Homo sapiens: one gene and its partners. The gene in region 4 interacts genetically with the main gene of each other region. Each region holds a gene or a part of one and is shown on either strand. Other genes may lie near its edges.

The links.
Region 1: changes in CDC25B (region 4) and AMHR2 together harm fitness more than expected from each alone (negative genetic interaction), as found in Homo sapiens cells (one large-scale study listed by BioGRID).
Region 2: changes in CDC25B (region 4) and DDR2 together harm fitness more than expected from each alone (negative genetic interaction), as found in Homo sapiens cells (one large-scale study listed by BioGRID).
Region 3: changes in CDC25B (region 4) and PFKFB4 together harm fitness more than expected from each alone (negative genetic interaction), as found in Homo sapiens cells (one large-scale study listed by BioGRID).
Region 5: changes in CDC25B (region 4) and IGF1R together harm fitness less than expected from each alone (positive genetic interaction), as found in Homo sapiens cells (one large-scale study listed by BioGRID).

Annotation. Positions count from the first base shown.
Region 1 is NC_000012.12:53,422,628-53,426,759, reverse strand, and holds the start of AMHR2 (anti-Muellerian hormone type-2 receptor isoform 1 precursor), read right to left. Parts: upstream 2,906-4,132; 5' UTR 2,826-2,905; coding exon 2,777-2,825; intron 2,473-2,776; coding exon 2,290-2,472; intron 2,052-2,289; coding exon 1,860-2,051; intron 1,675-1,859; exon of another isoform or gene 1,604-1,674; coding exon of another isoform or gene 1,596-1,603; coding exon 1,518-1,595; intron 1,306-1,517; coding exon 1,187-1,305; intron 1,075-1,186; coding exon of another isoform or gene 1,072-1,074; coding exon 841-1,071; intron 1-840. UniProt on the Homo sapiens protein: On ligand binding, forms a receptor complex consisting of two type II and two type I transmembrane serine/threonine kinases.
Region 2 is NC_000001.11:162,785,008-162,787,906, reverse strand, and holds the end of DDR2 (discoidin domain-containing receptor 2 precursor), read right to left. Parts: 3' UTR 502-2,899; downstream 1-501. UniProt on the Homo sapiens protein: Tyrosine kinase involved in the regulation of tissues remodeling. It functions as a cell surface receptor for fibrillar collagen and regulates cell differentiation, remodeling of the extracellular matrix, cell migration and cell proliferation.
Region 3 is NC_000003.12:48,539,779-48,543,456, forward strand, and holds part of PFKFB4 (6-phosphofructo-2-kinase/fructose-2,6-bisphosphatase 4), read right to left. Parts: intron 1-3,678. UniProt on the Homo sapiens protein: Synthesis and degradation of fructose 2,6-bisphosphate.
Region 4 is NC_000020.11:3,802,794-3,806,471, reverse strand, and holds the end of CDC25B (M-phase inducer phosphatase 2), read right to left. Parts: exon of another isoform or gene 3,664-3,678; intron 3,563-3,663; coding exon 3,500-3,562; intron 3,365-3,499; coding exon 3,266-3,364; intron 3,069-3,265; coding exon 2,935-3,068; intron 1,904-2,934; coding exon 1,792-1,903; intron 1,652-1,791; coding exon 1,511-1,651; 3' UTR 357-1,510; downstream 1-356. UniProt on the Homo sapiens protein: Tyrosine protein phosphatase which functions as a dosage-dependent inducer of mitotic progression. Directly dephosphorylates CDK1 and stimulates its kinase activity.
Region 5 is NC_000015.10:98,707,502-98,711,179, reverse strand, and holds part of IGF1R (insulin-like growth factor 1 receptor isoform 1 precursor), read right to left. Parts: intron 3,619-3,678; coding exon 3,073-3,618; intron 1-3,072. UniProt on the Homo sapiens protein: Receptor tyrosine kinase which mediates actions of insulin-like growth factor 1 (IGF1). Binds IGF1 with high affinity and IGF2 and insulin (INS) with a lower affinity. The activated IGF1R is involved in cell growth and survival control.

The DNA of each region.
Region 1 (4,132 bases), on a different chromosome or scaffold from region 4:
AGTGAGCCAAGCTTGTGCCACTGCACTCCAGCCTGGGCAACAGAGCAAGACTCCGTCCTCCCACCAAAATAAAATAAAAATATATAAACATGTATTGTTTATGTAATAAAAAAGATAAATAAAAATTATTATTTTGAGACAGGGTCTTACTCTGTCACCTAGGCTGGAGTGCAGTGGCACAATCTTGGCTCACTGCCAGCCTTGACCTCCCCAGGCTCAGGTGCTCCTTCCACTTCAGCCTCCCAAGTAGCTGGGACCACAGGCATGTGCCATCACACCCAGCCAATTTTTTGTTTTTTGTAGAGGTGGGGTTTCACGGTGTTGCCCAGGCTGTTCTTGAATTCCTGGGTTCAAGTGATCCTCACACCTTGGCCTCCCAAAGTGCTGGGATTACAGGCGTCTGCCACCGTGCCCAGCCTGTTACTATTTTTTCACATGGTCTCGCTCTGTCTCCCAGGCTGGAGTGCAGTGGGATGCTCACGGCTCACTGCAGCCTCAACCTCCTAAGCTCAAGCGATCTTTCCACCTCAGCCTCCTGAGTAGCTGGGACTACAGGTGTGCACTGCCATGCTGAGCTAATTTTTGTAATTTTGCAGTGATGGGGTTTCCTCATATTGCCTAGGCTGGTCTTGAGCTCCTGGGCTTAAGCGATCCACCCACCTTGGCCTCCCAAAGTCCTGGGATTACAGGTGTGGGCCACCTCGCCTGGCCATTTTTAATGTTTTAGAAAAGAGAAAATCGAAAGCAGAAGCAATCAACAGGGCCCAGCTGCCATGTAGCCCCCACCTCTATACATACACACAGGCACACACACACACATATACACTCCTTGGTGCTCACCTTGGGATGCAGTTCCAGTACCAGCAGGGGCCCAGAGAGCAGGCGGCCAGGACCCCCCCGGCTGGCAGTGATAAATCGGACAATGTGGTCGTGCTGTAGGCCTGGAAGTTCGTACAATGCTCTCTCAGCTTGGAACTGAGCCACAGACCTCGGTGGGAAGGCCTTGATGGCAACCAGTTTTCCTTGCAGCTGCCCGGCCCAAACCACTGCATGACCTCCTTCCCGGATTACCTGCTGGGGACACTGTGCTGAGTGTGGGCCTCTGAGCTATAACAGGGCCAGGATTCCTCCCCAGCACAACCTCCAGGAGTGCCCAGAGGAGCCCTTCTCTCCCTCCCTGGGGCACCTGGGAGAAACACAGCTCAGGCAGCTCCTGCAGCTCCACACTCCAGTCCCTGCCTGAGTCTGGCCTTGGCTCTGGCACTGGCTCACCTCGCACTCTGTAGTTCTTTCGCTGTAGCAGGGCTGGAACAGACAAGAGCCTTAGGGTCAGGGTGCAAATGCATAGGGACAGGAAAAGGGACTTCGTGGAAAGGGAGCTTTGTGAGAGGTCATGGGAGTCCGGGAATCAGGCTATAGAGATCCCAAGACCATGGGGTCAGGGGTGCCTGGAGAGGGGTCAGAGCTTTTGGGGCAATGTCTTGGGGTCACAAGGGAGGGATGGGGTGGATTAGTACCCAAGATGATGCTGCCCAGCAGCAGCAGGAGGAGGAGGAACAGCCCCAGCAGCACCAGTGCCATCCAGATGGACTCACCTGGACATCAAGGCAAGAATGCAGGCTGGAGAGCACTGACCCAAACCTGCTCTCTGCTCTTCCCCTCCTGAGAGCTTGCGTCTCAACCCACCCCCACCCTGGTCACAAGACCCCTTATCTCCCAGTCACCAGGGCAACCAACTTCCCAAGGCCAGGAGGAGGAAAGCGTGGGGCGGGAGTAGGGTGAGAACTGGCCCTGGTTCCACCTCTCATCCTAACCTGGGCCCCAGCCCCCATCAGGCTTCAGTACCCTTGGGTGGCTACCTGGGGCAGCCTGGGGACCCTGGGAGCCAGGAGTCCCAGGGCTCCCTGGAGGAGGCAGATGGCTGTAATTGGCATTGCAGAAGTCAGTGCCACAGGAGCAGGTGAAGAGAGTGGAGCCAGGGCTGGGGTGGGCTCGGGGACTTGGGTCACAGTGGAGGGACTCACAGCCTGGCTCATCACTGTCTCGGCATCCTGATGGGATGGGATTAGGGGAAGAGGAGAGAAAGGGGGGGCAAGGAAGAAAGCACAATGGGGTGTGGAAACAGAGGGTAAATCCCTTCTCTATCAGAGGCGTCCCTTCCAGCTCTCATGGGCTTTTCTTTCCCACCAGATGTTCTATTTCTCCCCTTCCCCCTTGGTTGCCACCCACACCCCAGGATGTGTCTGTCTCCCACCCTAGCCATCACCTGCCATATACTTTGCCATTCACCTTGCATTTCCACCTGTGCCCGGTCTTGGGTCAGGTTCCAGATCCCAAAGCAGCAGCGGCTGTAGAGGCAGCGGATAGCTCTGGGGAGCTCTGTGCCTGTATCTAGCAGCTCTCCCAGTGTCTTTGTGCTTCCCCGCACTCCAGGGGCCTCAAAGAACACACAGGTTCGCCTGTTTGGGGGTGCTGAGGCCCAGGGTGGGGAAAGGAAAAGATTCAAGGTGGGAGTGAATGCAGAGGCAAAAAACTGGCCAAAAGAATAGACAAAACATGTTCCACATCCCAGCGTCAGTATGGTAAAGCCACAGGAGGAAGCAGGGTCAGCAGAGGCCTGGAACCTGAGCCCTGCCATGGGGACACATGGCTCTATCCTTCACCCTTACTCACCCAGCCCACTCACCACTCTTCCAAAGGGGTGGCTCTTGCTTCAAGCGCCCCTTTCCCTTGCTGGATGGATGGAGAGACCCTTCCCCTCCCTGTAGACACTTACCTTCCACAGCTGTGGGAAGTAATGCCCAAAGCCCCAAAGACCCTAGCATCTTGCTGGAGGATGGCAGCAGCAGAAGGAGAAGAGCATAAGCCAGCACAGCTGCCCCTGGCCAAATCTTTCTTCAGATACAGGGCATCCTGGGGCTTCTGATCCCTCAGTCCCCAACTCCGCCCCCCTCATCCTATCCCAGCCTCTGTGGGGGAGAAGGCTGCTGTGGGGGAGAGGGTGGGTGTGGGGAAAGCAGGGAAAGAAAGGGAGGAGCAGAGAACCAATCTCATATCCTCTTCTCTTCTGCAACCTCCTCTTTGCTCTGCATAGTGAGAGGAGGGGAACTTGGAGGCCCAGCTGAGAACCCAGTGATGCCTAATTTCAAATCTTTGCCCTTCCCTGACCTTGGAAGAAGATGCTGGACTCTGTTGACTCTTCTCAGGAGGAAACCAATGTGAGGTCAAATGCTTAGAGCCATTCAGCTCTGCCCAAGATCCTTTCTAGCCTAAGATCTCTTTATATTCAGGGTTCATATCTGCAACTGCTTGGGCAGAGGAAGGCCTCACAGCCCATATTAGAGGTTACCTTGTTTTCCAACTTAAGAATCAGAAAGTATACAAAACTTACCTGAATTTTTAAAAAACACATTGAAAACAGTAACAATGGTAAATTTTGCTATGTGGATTTTTTTTTTTTTTTTTTTGAGACGGAGTCTCGCTCTTCTCCCCCAGGCTGGAGTGCAGTGGCACGATCGCAGCTCACTGCAACCTCCGCCTCCTGGGTTCAAGCTATTCTCCTGCCTCAGCCTCCTGAGTAGCTGGGATTACAGGCGCCTGCCACCACACCTGGCTAATTTTTGTATTTTTAGTAGAGACGGGGTTTCACCATGTCAGCCAGGCTAGTCTCGAACTCCTTACCTCAGGTGATTTGCCCGCCTCGGCCTCCCAAAGTGCTGGGATTATAGGCGTGAGCCACCATGCCTAGCCGTGGATTTTACTTAAAAAAAAAAAACACATTGGTTCACAGGCTGAACAAATACCCATTATTAAGGAGGTAACAAATTTCTTATCAAGCACCTACTATGTGCTGGGGCACAGCTAGGGCTATGCATTTTACAATCATCTCATCTAATTCTCCCCTGAAATATTTATTATTATTATTTTATTTATTTATTTTTTGAGACCGAGTGTCGCTCTGTCACCAGGCTAGAGTGCAGTGGTGCCATCTTGGCTCACTGCAACCTCTGACTCCCTGGTTCAAGCGATTCTCCTGCCTCAGCCTCCCGAGTAGCTGGGATTACAGGCACGCACCACCATGTCCAGCTAATTTTTGTATTTTTAGTAGAGACAGGGTTTCACCATGTTGGCC
Region 2 (2,899 bases), on a different chromosome or scaffold from region 4:
CCAATAAAATTTCTTTATCATGGGGGTGGAACTCAGCTCCTACGCTTATCCCACTTTCAACTGTTCTAAAGAGACCACAATTTAACAACATTTTCTGAAAGTCATGGAGTAAAATTAAGCCTAATTGTGAGAGTCTAGACCCAAAGACTCATTTTAAAATGTTCTAGAGCTCAGAGGTGATAAGGAATAAGAAGAAGACCTGGTTGTGTGGCTGTCCCATAAAAAAATCATTTCTATAAAGAAGGGAGAGGGCCTGGGCTGTGGAGGCTCAGCATTACCGCAGTCTCGGGATGACCGCCAGCCTAAGACAGACTGAATTAAGTGAAGTCCAGACAGCTTCAGAGCAAGACCGTCTGTCTCTCCTTTCCCCAAGATTTTCATTCAAGCCAAGTGATGAAACTGCTCTCTTCTTCCTTTTTCTGCACTAAAGTTGCTGCTTTCAAGGTGTTATGACTTTTGAAAGATGGGCTGAACTGCTAGAGGTGCTCAGAGAGACTAGAATAGAGTTCAAAATAGATGCCATTTAATTTTATATTTTACAAATATTTTATCACTCATAGGACACAGCTTGATAACCATCATAATATGTTTTTATTGATGAGTGAATGGATAGGTGTGTTTTTTTTAATCATCATAAGTTTATGTTTTGCATGGGCTCATTCTGTTCTCCTGGAAATCAGAAGAACAATAGGGTACACAATGATCCCATCTATCCCTGCCAAACCTTGGCCCTGTGATTTATCTACCATACCCCATGCTGAAAAATGTGCTCAGAAAACTCACATATTCTGAGAAATATTCTCAGAAAACTAAAAGTATAAACTTATTCTCAGAGACCAGGTAAGAAATGGGTTGTTTGGGGTCGTTTCATTCTAATCTCTAGTATAATGACTGAGTCTAAATTCTGGTTTTCATAGTTTTTTTTGGTTTGTGCATGTGCAGGTAGTCTGAGACAGACTATATTTGGATTTAAAAAGGATTTCTGTGTATCAAACAAGACAAGTCTGTAACCATAACGATAAGGGATCACCAGTTAATTCTAGACTGGATTCCCCAGAACTGGACTAATTAATGTGAGGACGTAAAATCCCAGTGTCTCGTATGTTTGGATATGTCAGAGACCAAGATGCTTTCTTCCCAATAAACAGTCAACTCATATGTTAGAGGTCTATTTAAATAATCCTTTGCTGGAAAGCCCCACAAACAGGTGTCCATACCACATACACCCCAGCTCTGGGCCCATGCCCCATCACTTCCCCAGGAATGAAAGACTATAAAGAGCAAAGGTTACAAAGCCCAGAACTGGCACTGTTTATACAGAAAGGGAGATCCATCAGTAGCATGACTCTTTAATCATTGTTATTTACAATTTATCATCTGACAGACTTACAGAGAATAAATAAAGAAAAGAAAATATACAATTGGTATCACGTTTCTTTTTCTAATACAGAGAAATTTTACATATTCTATTTGGAACGTCTATGATAGTTTTAAGCAGAAATTAAATCCATTTGCCCTTTACCCCTTGACAAGACACATCATCTTCCAAAGCCTGCAGAAGGGGGCCCAGATGTTTCCTCATCACAGGAAGAGTGCACCACATCGCTGCAGAAACTCAGTCCTCAGAAAAAGTTACCAGGCAACAAGGTAGAAGAATAGGATATCATGAATAATAAAGGACATATAATGGATAGGCTAGATTACAGACTCTTGGTGTGTTTGCAGGAAGCCAGCTTTCAATTGTGTCCAAGCCTGTTTTCAAGAAAACAGTTTTTCACTGAAAGTGATTACCTTATCCCATTGTGCTTCCCTTGAGTCTCTGCAAATTCTTCCTTGACATGTTCATTGTGATTGTGGATGAGCACAGGCTAGCTTGGGACTCAGATTATTTTCCTGCAAGGCACCTGACACTGTTGCATGTTGTTGACAAGGTGTCTGCAGGAGAAACTAGATAGCTTGTTTCAAATAGGCTGGGTATGAGGCCAGAGTCTGGTCTCTCCTTTTGATTCGGTGTCCTGTGGAGAACTACCTTTCATTGCTGTCTAAATGCCTCAAAAAATTAAGCAGTTCTATAGATCAATTTCTCCATCAAAAAGTATACAAACAGAGAATGCACTTCACCAGGAACAAGTCTGAGTAATTTTTTTCTCTTTCCTCACTTGAAAATAAACTCTCCATGTTACAAGCAAAACAATTCTCCCTACATTCACTCTAGTTAACTGGATGAGAAGTTTTTGTTTCTATCTTATGTTCATTCAAAAAAACAACATTCAGCAAATATTTATCAAGTGCTCACAATGACCTAGAAACTTAGTAAGACACACATTGTTATAATCTTGACCCCTTAAATAGGGGACTTAAAAATGTCAATCATAAAACTCAAAACTGTAATCCACAAAACTGGAGTTTCAACTTCTCCCCAGGTTGCCGCTGTGTTTGCAATTAATTTGGTCTAATGTGGTTGTTATTCCATTTAATAACGGCTATTTAGGCAAATAAAACCTCTCTACCACTCTGAAAATAGTATTTTATCAAACATTAGGAGTCTATACCATTGTATTCTATTCTCTCCACAAGCTATTTCCAGTGCCATTAACTAAGTGCCAACTAACTCTTGACTGAAATACTGGTTTACTCTAAACTCCTTATTTTGTCCCCAGTGCTAATCCTACTCACGTAGAAGCAGCAGGAAGCATCTAGAATATCCTGCTACCTGGTTTTCTAGACAACAAGCTATGAACAGGTCTTACTGTGTTTTGTGTTGCCTAATCTTTCTAAGTTTGTCTTGGATTGTTTCAGATGCCAAACAGCCAAACAAATCAGAAAATTTAGAAGCAGTGTAGGCAGGGTATTGCTCATGACAAAGGAACACATTAATGTGTTAATAGTCTCTCTAAAA
Region 3 (3,678 bases), on a different chromosome or scaffold from region 4:
CAAACTAGGGTTAACTCAGCCTCTGGCCCTGGGGAAGGAAGGGGCCAGAGTGGGCCCTGAAGTGGGCAGTGAGGGCCGCAGCACAGGCTCTCTGGGGACTGGATTTCTCATAAGGACCAGCTGCTGCCAGGTCCACCTGCCTGGCCAGTCTCCTCCAGACTTGCAACGGCTGGGCTGGCCCTCCCCTTCCTTGGAGAGAATGCCCCAAGGAAGTTAGAAGGAGAGGATGCCTGTGCTCCCAGCAGGGGAGCAGACCCGTGGCACAGAAGAACCTACTCAGTGCTGCTCTGCACACAGTGGGCACTCAGTTTGTGTTTGACCAACAGGAATTGCAGTGAAACCAGTTAAACCTAGTAAACTGAACCTATGTTTATTTCTACTCCATCCTGACACCCCAGTAAAATGGGAACAGAAGGATAAAGAGAAAAAGAGATGACAGGAGAAAAAGGAGACAACAGGAGATGGAGACATCAACACAATTCTGTCAGAGAGATCCACGGTGACGGACTCAGAGTCATGTAGGAAACCAAACACAGGTGCTGGCCAACCAGAGCACACCACCTGTGCAGGACCAGAGCACTCCAGAGGGTGCAGTGGCATTGCTAAGAAAAGGGACAAAGGTGGGGACGAAATGGGAGGACTAGCTGGCTGATAAAGAAGAGCTGGAGGCCCAGGCCCCCTTCCCAACCCCATCCAGCCAGGCACTGACCCATCTGGAGCTCTTTGAGAAGTACCTGGGGCCTGCACAAGCATCCTCTGAGTAGCCTCCTGAGTAGCTGGGACTACAAGTGTGCACCACACCTCGGTTACAGCATCATTTTTTTGTTTTTATTTAAAAAAAATTTTTTTGAGACAGGGTCTCACTCTGTCGCCCAGGCTGGAGCGTAGTGGAGCAATCATAGCTCACTGCAGCCTCAACCTCCTGGGCTTAAGTTATTCTTTCGCCTCAGCCTCCCAAGTAGCTGGGATTACAGGCATGTACCACCATACCTGGCTAATTTTTTTTTTTTTTTTGAGACAGAGTCTTGCTCTGTCGCCCAGGCTGCAGTGCAGTGGCGTGATCTCGGCTCACTGCAACCTCCGCCTACTGGGTTCAAGCGATTCTCCTGCCTCAGCCTCCTGAGTAGCTGGGATTACAGCTACTTGTGCCACCACGCCTGGCTAATTTTTGTATTTTTAGTAGAGACGAGGTTTCACCATGTTGGGCAGGCTGGTCTCGAACTCCTGACCTCATGATCTGCCAGCCTTGGCCTCCCAAAGTGCTGGGATTACAGGGGTGAGCCACTGTGCCCAACCACATCTGGCTAATTTTTTTTTTTTTTTTGAGACGGAGTCTTGCTCTGTCACCCAGGCTGGAGTGCAGTGGCGCGATCTCAGCTCGCTGCAAGCTCTGTCTCCCAGGTTCACGCCATTCTCCTGCCTCAGTCTCCCATCTGCCTCCTGGGTTCAGGCCATTCCCCTGCCTCAGCCTCCCGAGTAGCTGGGACTACAAGCGCCTGCCACAACGCCCAGCTAATTTTTTGTATTTTTTTAGTAGAGATGGAGTTTCACTATATTAGCCAGGATGGTCTTGATCTCCTGACCTCGTGATCCACCCGCCTCAGCCTCCCAAAGTGCTGGGATTACAGGTGTGAGCCACCGCACCTGGCCCACACCTGGCTAATTTAAAAATTTTTCTGTAGACACAGAGTCTCGCTATGTAAGCTGGTCTCAAACTCTTGGGCTCAAGCAGTCCTCCTGCCTCAGACTCCCAAAGTGCTGGGATTACAGGCATGAGCCACCATGTCAGCCCAGCATCACTTTTTTAAAAAGGGCATCCAGCCAGGGCTCACTGGACACTCCAGCAAAACCTTTAACAAGAAAAACAGAAACTAAATCAAACAAACAAACAAAAAAAGAAATTTGGGCCGGGTGCAGTGGCTTATGCCTGTAATCCTAACACTTTCGGAGGCTGGGGCAGGCAAATTGCTTGAGGCCAGGAGCTTGAGACAAGCCTGCTCAACAAGGTGAAACCCTGTCTCTGTGAAAAATACAAGAATTAGCCAAGCATGGTGGCACGTGCCTGTAGTCCCAGCTACTCAGGAGGCTGAGGTGTGAGGATCACTTAAGCCTAGGAGACAGGCTGCAGTGAGCTATGATTGAGACACTACACTCCAGCCTGGGCAACAGAGCAGGACCATGTCTCAAGGAAATAAAAAACAACAACACTCATATACTTGTAAGATAATGTTGAAGAAGTCTTTCTCAAAACAAACAACCAAAAAAAACAGAGAAAATAAAGAGAAAGGCTGGGCGTGGTGGCTCACGCCTGTAATCCCAGCACTGTGGGAGGCAGAGGCAGGCGGATCACGAGGTCAGGAGATCGAGACCATGGTGAAACCCCATCTCTACTAAAAATACAAAAAATTAGCCGGGCACAGTGGCGGGGGCTTGTAGTCCCAGCTACTCAGGACGCTGAGGCAGGAGAGTGGCGTGAACCCAGGAGGAGGAGCTTGTAGTGAGCCGAGATCACGCCACTGCACTCCAGCCTGGGTGACAGAGCGAGACTCCATCTCAAAAAAAAAAAAAAAGAAAGAAAGAAAATTAAGAGAAAAAAGATAAAATCAGAATCTCAGAATCAAGCTAGCATGTAGCCACCAGAAGTTCTAGAAAAAGCAGCTCAGAAAATGGGAGTAGGGATGGAGTGAGTTGCCAGAAAGGGGCAGAGGTGATTTGTCAAAGAAATAATACATGACAATTTCCCTGACCTGGAGAACAAGAGTGTTATGATGAAAAGGGGCCCCCTAGGACCATGTATGGTGGAGAGAAGACCCACCACAAACCACATCACCTTGAAGACCCTAAAGGCCTCCCAAGCGGAAGGGGCATGAGAAACTCTCAGCTCCCTCTAAGAGATGAAGCTTTTAGGAAGATCAGCAAATCAGAATGACATGAGACTTCTCCACAGCCACACTAGAAGCCATAAGACATCAGAGTGATGTTGTAGAAGTTCTAAGGGAAAAGCACTTTCCACCTAGAAATTCTATACCCAACCATCAAATGTGAGGATTAAAAAAAGACATTTCAGATGTGCAAGGTCTCACACAATTTACCTCCCCAAGCACCTTTCTCAGGAAGTTACTGGAGGATGTGCTTCAATGAAACAAATCAGTAAGTCAAAGAGAGGATGATGTGGGATCCACAGGCAGAACATTCAACCCAGGAGAGAGAAGGGCAATGGCTGTGCTACAGGCACAGATTGTAGCTGGGGACAGAGAACTCCAGAAGGCATGACTCCAGGAAGAAGAAGGAAGGGAAAGAACAGCCCCTGTGTTTGACTATATAAGGCTGGGGTAGAGCCGTTTCCCACAGACACCCCAGTTTAGCCCTGTTCTGCTCTTCCGTCTGACTAGAAGGGCCAACACACAGGTGGAATCCCCTTAATCCAGGATTCAGTGGGTTCCTACAACAACCAGTAATGCTGGGCAGGATTCTCCCCACACCAGGAGAAATCACATTTACTAAAGACTTAGGCAACCTGATACCTGTAACTTCTGGGGTGGCCAAGAATACAAGCATCCAGAGGGAAGTCCTGCAGGGTCAAATGCGGCCACCACATGCCCAGAGGGAAACTCCTGGCCCATATCCAGTCTCTGGCTTCCTCCTGCATAGCTGTTGCAGACTTCCTCCCAAGGGCTG
Region 4 (3,678 bases):
GTGCTGGGATTACAGGCGTGAGTCACTGCAGCTGGCTTTAAGTTTATCCTGAGGACAATGGGGAGCCACTGATGATCCTTGAGTGATGAGGTCACTCTTGCCTTTTGGTGCCGAGTTTAGGAAGGGCAAGCCTAGAAGTGCTTGGGAGGCCAGGTGAGGGGAAGGAGGGGTTGAATCCAAAGTCCTGGCAGGAGTGTCACCCAAGAGATGGAAGACATTGGGAGAAGAAGGGACAAGAGCATGAGGGCACCTCTCCAGCAACTCTTCCTGCCTTTGCTGACCCTGTCTCCTACCCCAATCCCGCCATTGGCGGGCTTCTGGGGTCTTGCCCAGGGCCCCACAGGACACAATGCTGGTTTCTCAACTTGCTCAGTGCTTTATTGAACCAAGGCCCTAACAGATGACTCAGCAGGGCCTTCAAGCACAGCCCTGCCCCCATCTTGAGATTCAGAATCCAGAGGGTGCTCAGTCCTTGGTTTAGCTGCTTCTGTGACATTTCCTCTTGAATAGCTCCAAACCCTAAGTGTAAATATTTTTGTCCACACAAATAGGCACACATATATTCCTGCTGCAGGCTGTCATGCTCAACAAAACGCTCCCACCTGGTTTGGGTATGCAAGGCACTGCGCATCCACGGCCATCCACGGCCATCCACCCATCCATCCAACCTTCCATCCATCCGCAACAAGACAGCAGCAAGTTCTGAGCAGTCAGGCCCCAGGGTTCACAGCAGTAGGGGCTGGGCTTCCAGCAGGCTCATGATTCAGGCCTTAACCCTTGCCCTGGGAGCCCCCAAGGATAATAACATCCCTTTCTGGGGCAACAAAACTGGGACCGAGTGGGTAACTGATATTTGACAGGGGAACCTAAACAGTCTACGGAAGTGTCCTGAGATGGGCGTAAAGTCAAACAGACCAAGCACACAGGTAACACTGAAATAGGAAAGAGTAAGAGCTTCTGTTCAGGCTGGAGGTGCTCGTATGGTGGGACAGGAAAGGGGAAAAGAGAAAGGGGCAACATGGCAGACATACCACGGTTCCTACAGAGATTAGGGGCAGCCCTGGCCCGGGAAGTACACAGGGCAGAGAGCTGACTCTCAGGCCAGGAAGGAGTTTAGCTCTGACCCATCCTCAGGGACCACGGCTCTCCCCCAGCCTCAGCTGACACACACACAAAGGAGCGTTTCAGGACACAGGAAGATGAAGGGTTAACCCTAACAAGGAAACAAGAAGCTCCTGGAGGACACAAAATACTGCCTTTAAGCTGGTATTAACCCAACTTAACTAACTCAACAGACTGGGCTCTTCCAGGGGTGGGGGGCACCAGGATATGGAAAATGATGGGATGACACAGGGGAATCTGGGCTGGGGCAGACAGGCAGGACACCCACACCATCTTTCCCATGGACAGCACCTGAGGCCTCCAGCAGGCCCTCAGCCCGGCAGGCCCATAGGGCAGCTGGCTTCAGGCCTCGAAAGGCAAGGGAGGTAGCAGGACTGGCGCAGGCCCCTCACTGGTCCTGCAGCCGGCTACAGAGCTCCCGCCGGCTCCGCTCCCCAGCCCAGCTGCGAGTCTTGAGGCGGAAGGTCTTTAGCTCATCCTTGAAGGCCTCGTGGTTCATGGGCCGGTAGTCCTGGGGTTCACAGAAGTTCTAGGGCAGGACAGGAGGGGTCAATGCAGTGGAATGGGTAAGTTTGGCAGGGACCCAACCCTCCCACCCCCCATCCCATGGCTCCAGCCTGGCCAAGCCAACCCTCACACAGAGACTGTGGCCTTCCCCACCCACGCTACCGGGTGCTGAGGGAAGAACTCCTTGTAGCCGCCTTTCAGGATATACATCTCAGGGTAGTAGAGGCTGGGGTAGTCGTTGACAGCACGGTCTCGTTCCCTGATGAAACGGCACCTGGGGCGTCATGGGCAGGGTGTGGTCAGAGTGGGGCATGCAGTGGCTTGTACATCATGGGACCTATCCCCCACGTCCCCTCCTTTGAGGGCCTTGGGGAGCCACAGAAAGCTTTAGAGCACAGGAATGTAACCACAAGAACACTTTTAGGTCACTCTGGCTACAGAAGAGGGTGGGGAGGCGGAAGGAAGGAGGTAAAATCAAGGGGATGAACTCTCCGTTTCTAGAAGGCAGTTGCACAATCTTTGTTAGAGATATCTGTGCCTGGACCAGGAAAGGAGAAGCAGGAGAGGAGACAAGTGGGCCAAATTCAAGGGATCCATTCGGGCCACTCCTGGACAAGACCTGGTGAGGATCAGTGGTGGGGAGAAGGGAGGAGGAGGACCCAAGACTGAAGCCAGTGCCCAGGCCCGGTGCCCAGGTGGAGGTGGGTGCCATATGCTGGGATGCCTGGAGAAGTTGGGAGGGCCGCAGGGATGCGACTCTGTAAGGGGCGTCTGGGTGCAGATTCCCACCACATGGGTGAGGCCAGGCTGGGGAGCCACTAGCAGTCATATGGACCAGTGGCAACCCAGGAGGAGGCAGGGGTGGGAGGACAGATGGCCAGGCAGAACAGGAATAGCGACAGAAGGAGCTCAGCCAGGGAGGCCCAGGTGCTGTGGATGCCAATGGAAGAGGTTCTAATGGAGACCTAACAGCACTGAACATGGGGAGGGTCCGTGTACTGGGGACTGACACGCGGCCCTTAGATTTCGAGAAAAGACACCGCTAGAGACTTGGAACTAAATTTTCTGAGGGTGGCAGTAATGGATGTGGGGTGGACATGAGGCTTGATAGGCAGGACAGTGAGGGAGATGGGAGGCGGGTACCATGCACAGTGAAGTGGGGCTGAGGTCAGCTCTAGGCCATCAGATGGGACAGAGGAGGACCTGGACTTGCACCCCTGGCCATCTCAATGGTGCCAGCACCTGTGAGCCTGGGCAGGGAAGGCCAGGGCAGACACTAGCTGGCTGGGCGGAGCTGGGACTCACATGCGGGGCCCACGCTCAGATGAGAATTCACAGTGGAAAATGAGGATGACTCTCTTGTCCAGGCTACAGGGCGCGATGGGGCTCTTCAGTAGGAAGCTCTCGGCGTCGCGTTCCAGGGGCAAGTTCACCGCAGTCTGTCAGAGGAGCCAGAGGTCAGGCACAGCCCCGGGTCCAGGAGTCAGGGCCCTCCCCGTGCAGTCGCTGTCCTTCTCTTAGTAGGAACCCTCCCCATGAGAGGGGGCACCCGTCCTCCACCCATTCACCCTCTTGGCAAAGCAAGGACCTAAACCAGGTGGGATCTTCAGGGCCTCTCCCCATTGCCCCATCTTACCTTGATGTGCCCGCCTTCATATTCATAGGGGTATCTGCAGTCTACAATCACAAACTTATCCACGATGTTGCTGAACTTGCCCGTCAATAGGGCCACCATCTGTAGGAGGTCATGGGGGTTGGTTCCGGCAGGTCAGGCTGGCAGCTGGCAGGTGGCCCTAGCCTGTCCCCAGGGAAGGTCAACAATGGAGCTACAGTCCCAAATCTGCCTAGAAAATGACGCAACGCTGTTTACCGTTTCTGGTGAGATGTACTTGAGGTCTTGGTGCTTTCCGTCTACTGTCTGTAGGAGGAAGGCCTGAAGGGAACGGAAGGGATGAGGGAGAGGGGAGAAAGTTAAATTGGTAAGACCAGGAGCCTCAAAGAATGAAGTTTCATTCCCAAAATCAGAGGCCACACCTGCTTTGGCCTTCA
Region 5 (3,678 bases), on a different chromosome or scaffold from region 4:
TTCATGGAGCTCCCCAAATGATTCCTAAGGGTTCTGGCTGGAGAGGTACATGCGGGGCTATGAGCGCTGCAGTGACGACTCAGCCAAAAAGATGATGAGGGGAAGAACTCCTGGTGTTAAAAGAAATGCTCTAAAGCAGCTTACCAACACAGAATGCAAGCCACATCTGTAATTTTAAATTTTCAAGTAGCCACATTAAGAATTAAAAAGAGTCGGGCATGGTGGCTCACACCTGTAATCCTAACACTTTGGGAGGCTGAGGCGGGCGGATCATCTGAGGTCAGGAGTTTGAGACCAGCCTGGCCAACATGGTGGTGAAACCCCGTCTCCAGTTAAAATACAAAAATTAGACGGGCATGGTGGCACATGCTTGTAATTCCAGCTACTTGGGAGGCTGAGGCAAGAGAATCGCTTGAACCCAGGAGACGGAGGTTGCAGTGAGCCGAGATCGCGCCGCTGCACTCCAGCCTGGGTGATGAGAGCGAAACTCCGCCTCAAAAAAAAAAAAAAAGAATAAAAAGGAAACAGGCAGGTGAAATTTAAGAACACATTTTACTTAATCTAATATATCCAAAATGTTATATTTCAACATGTTATCAACATAGTAATTATTAATGAAATGGTGTACAGAGTTTTTGCTATACTATGTCTTGGAAATCTAGTGTATATTTTACACCTAAAGCAGTCCCAATTCGGACAAGCCACAGTTCAAGTACTCAATAAGCCACGTGGCTTACTCAATAAGCGGCTACCACACTGGACAATGCAGGTCTAAATGGAATCTACGCAAACCAAGAGGAAGTTCTGATTCAACTAGAAAATCTCCAAGAAATATGCCCATGCCTGAGTTTTCAGGACAAGGGGAAGGGAAGTCAATTTCCCGGAAAGCAGTTACCAATTTTATATAAGTACTCCATTGTGAAATCACAAGGAACATCAGCAGGGCTGGGATGGTCAAGGAGAAGGCTGCAGGGCGTGGCCTTGGGGAAGCAGGTGACCAACCAACAGGTGATATCAAGGCTCTGTCTGTCACCAGCAGAGCCCACCTTCTAACCATCGTTAACATTTTCACGGTGCTTTTCCTTCCTCCTTTTCATCTTCCAACAGCCCTATGAGGAAGGCAGGCTTTACCCCATTCCACATATGAAGAAACCAAGGCCCAGGCAATTTAAATAACTTGCTCATTTCTAGTCGCCACTCTTAGACTTGGACCCAGAATGCAGGCCTCACCCCTACCCCAGGGGTCTTCAATCAGTAGCTCATCAGAAACAGCCAAAAACCTATGGCAAGACCAAAGTAACTACCTACCTAGTTCGTGAACAACTCTCCACTTAATGACGTTTCATATGGCACCTCCCTTCTCTAAAGAGCTTATGAGTTTTCAAAACATCCTCATGCCCATATATGATCACCACTAAGGGATGTACTGGACTGCCCTAGAAATATCCTAAAAAAGCCCAACTACAGCCCAGAAGGGCTGGCCCATCCAAGGTCATTCCTGGCCCTCATCACCACATTCAACATCTCTTTTCTACTCCATGCTGCCTCCCTTGATAACACCTTTTACTTTTCAGATAAAATTTTTAAATGTCAAGGTTATTTAAAAAATATATTTTGTTGTTTTCTCAAACCAGTGGGTAACTTAATGATAGGGCAGTTTTAATCAACCACACAAGTGACTTTAGCATAAGATCTCCCTCCAACTCCAGCCAACCTTAAAGTGGCCTGACTGCATTCTCAGAGCTCTACAAGGTACTGGCTGCAGCCAGTGGGACCCCTGCCCTCACTAATCAATGTTCACATACGCACTGATCCAATTCTGCAGAATAGAAAAGTGCGTGGCAGATCAGGGTACACAGATCCTTTTCCTGCCTCAGGACTGGTTGAACGGGAACTGAAGGGCTACCTGGGAGGTCTGTCCTTTATTTACTTTACACACTTCACCCCTGTGGGGTCTCGCCTTTTATTTATTTTAGGCAAGTCTAACAATTTGGGGTTTCTTGGTTCTTCATAACTAGAGAACATGGGTTCCTTACATCTTTAACTGGGCCAACACTTAAATAATAGCTATTTATAGCTAACACACTGACTTCAAACCAGTGAGGAAAAGCTTCCTAGCCAATATACATAACTATTGCTGAATGCAATAAGGTGAAGGCTCAGAGTCACATTTTAATACCAAACAGCCTGGTTCTTAAGGAACTGATCACATGAAGGCAAGAGCTCAGTTATTCTCAAGGGAAAATAAGCATATTGCAGATAAATATACAAGAAGCTTCAAAATACCACCATCTGACCCCCAGAACAGTAAATACTTTCCAAAGTTCCTTCACTCGTGAAATCTTAAGATTTTCACAACTGTTCAGTAAACAGGTATAAAAGAACGAAAACAGAATCCCAGAGGTTTAAAAATGCACCCTGCTACACAGCTACCTGCAAGTACAGCCTGAACCTGGGACTTGCAGAAATGGGTCCAGAGGTCTCCCACCTGGGCCAGGTGCTCTGTCATAACCAGGACACCTGAGTATCATAACATCATCACTAGGACCTAAGGACCACTTTCACAGGATATGAGTTAGTGCTTTACCTTCCCTTTATTTAACCATATTCCAAGTCCATTCAAACTAAGGAAGTCCTGCAGAACAAAAAATATCACTTCGCACAAAGGATGAAAGAGCTGACACATAAGCAGCCCCCAGCTGCCAAGGCTCAGGGACTTCCAAGCACACCAGGTCACCTTTCTCATCAGGAATTCAAAGCTGAAGGTCAGCAAGTGTCTAGCCCAGGAGTGTGCTGGATTATTTCTAACATGTGATTTGAACAGTCTTGACAGCAGCCATGATGGCCTCCAGCCACGCCACAGTCCCGCAATCCAAGAGTCCCAGATGCAAAGGAAAGCCAACCAAGACCCCCACTGGGAACCACTTCCGCACAGCAGGCATGCCACGTCCTAAATGCAACACGACTGCACCCTGCCCAGCGGAACTCGTGCACTCAGAAGAGAAGGGAGGTCAAGGAGGAGGAGAGGAGAGAGAGAGGCAGAGAGAAAGCAGCAGTCAGCATCATTCTTACTTTTCTGGCAGCGGTTTGTGGTCCAGCAGCGGTAGTTGTACTCATTGTTGATGGTGGTCTTCTCACACATCGGCTTCTCCTCCATGGTCCCTGGACACAGGTCCCCACATTCCTTTGGGGGCTTATTCCCCACAATGTAGTTATTGGACACCGCATCCAGGATCAGGGACCAGTCCACAGTGGAGAGGTAACAGAGGTCAGCATTTTTCTCAATCCTGATGGCCCCCCGAGTAATGTTCCTCAGGTTGTAAAGCCCAATATCCTTGAGATTGGTCATCTCGAAGATGACCAGGGCGTAGTTGTAGAAGAGTTTCCAGCCGCGGATGACCGTGAGGTTGGGGAAGAGGTCTCCGAGGCTCTCGAGGCCAGCCACTCGGAACAGCAGCAAGTACTCGGTAATGACCGTGAGCTTGGGGAAGCGGTAGCTGCGGTAGTCCTCGGCCTTGGAGATGAGCAGGATGTGGAGGTAGCCCTCGATCACCGTGCAGTTCTCCAGGCGCTTCAGCTGCTGATAGTCGTTGCGGATGTCGATGCCTGGCCCGCAGACTGAAGGGAGACAAGAGGGTAAACGTCTCAGTTAGAAGGAAATAATTTTTAAACTATTTT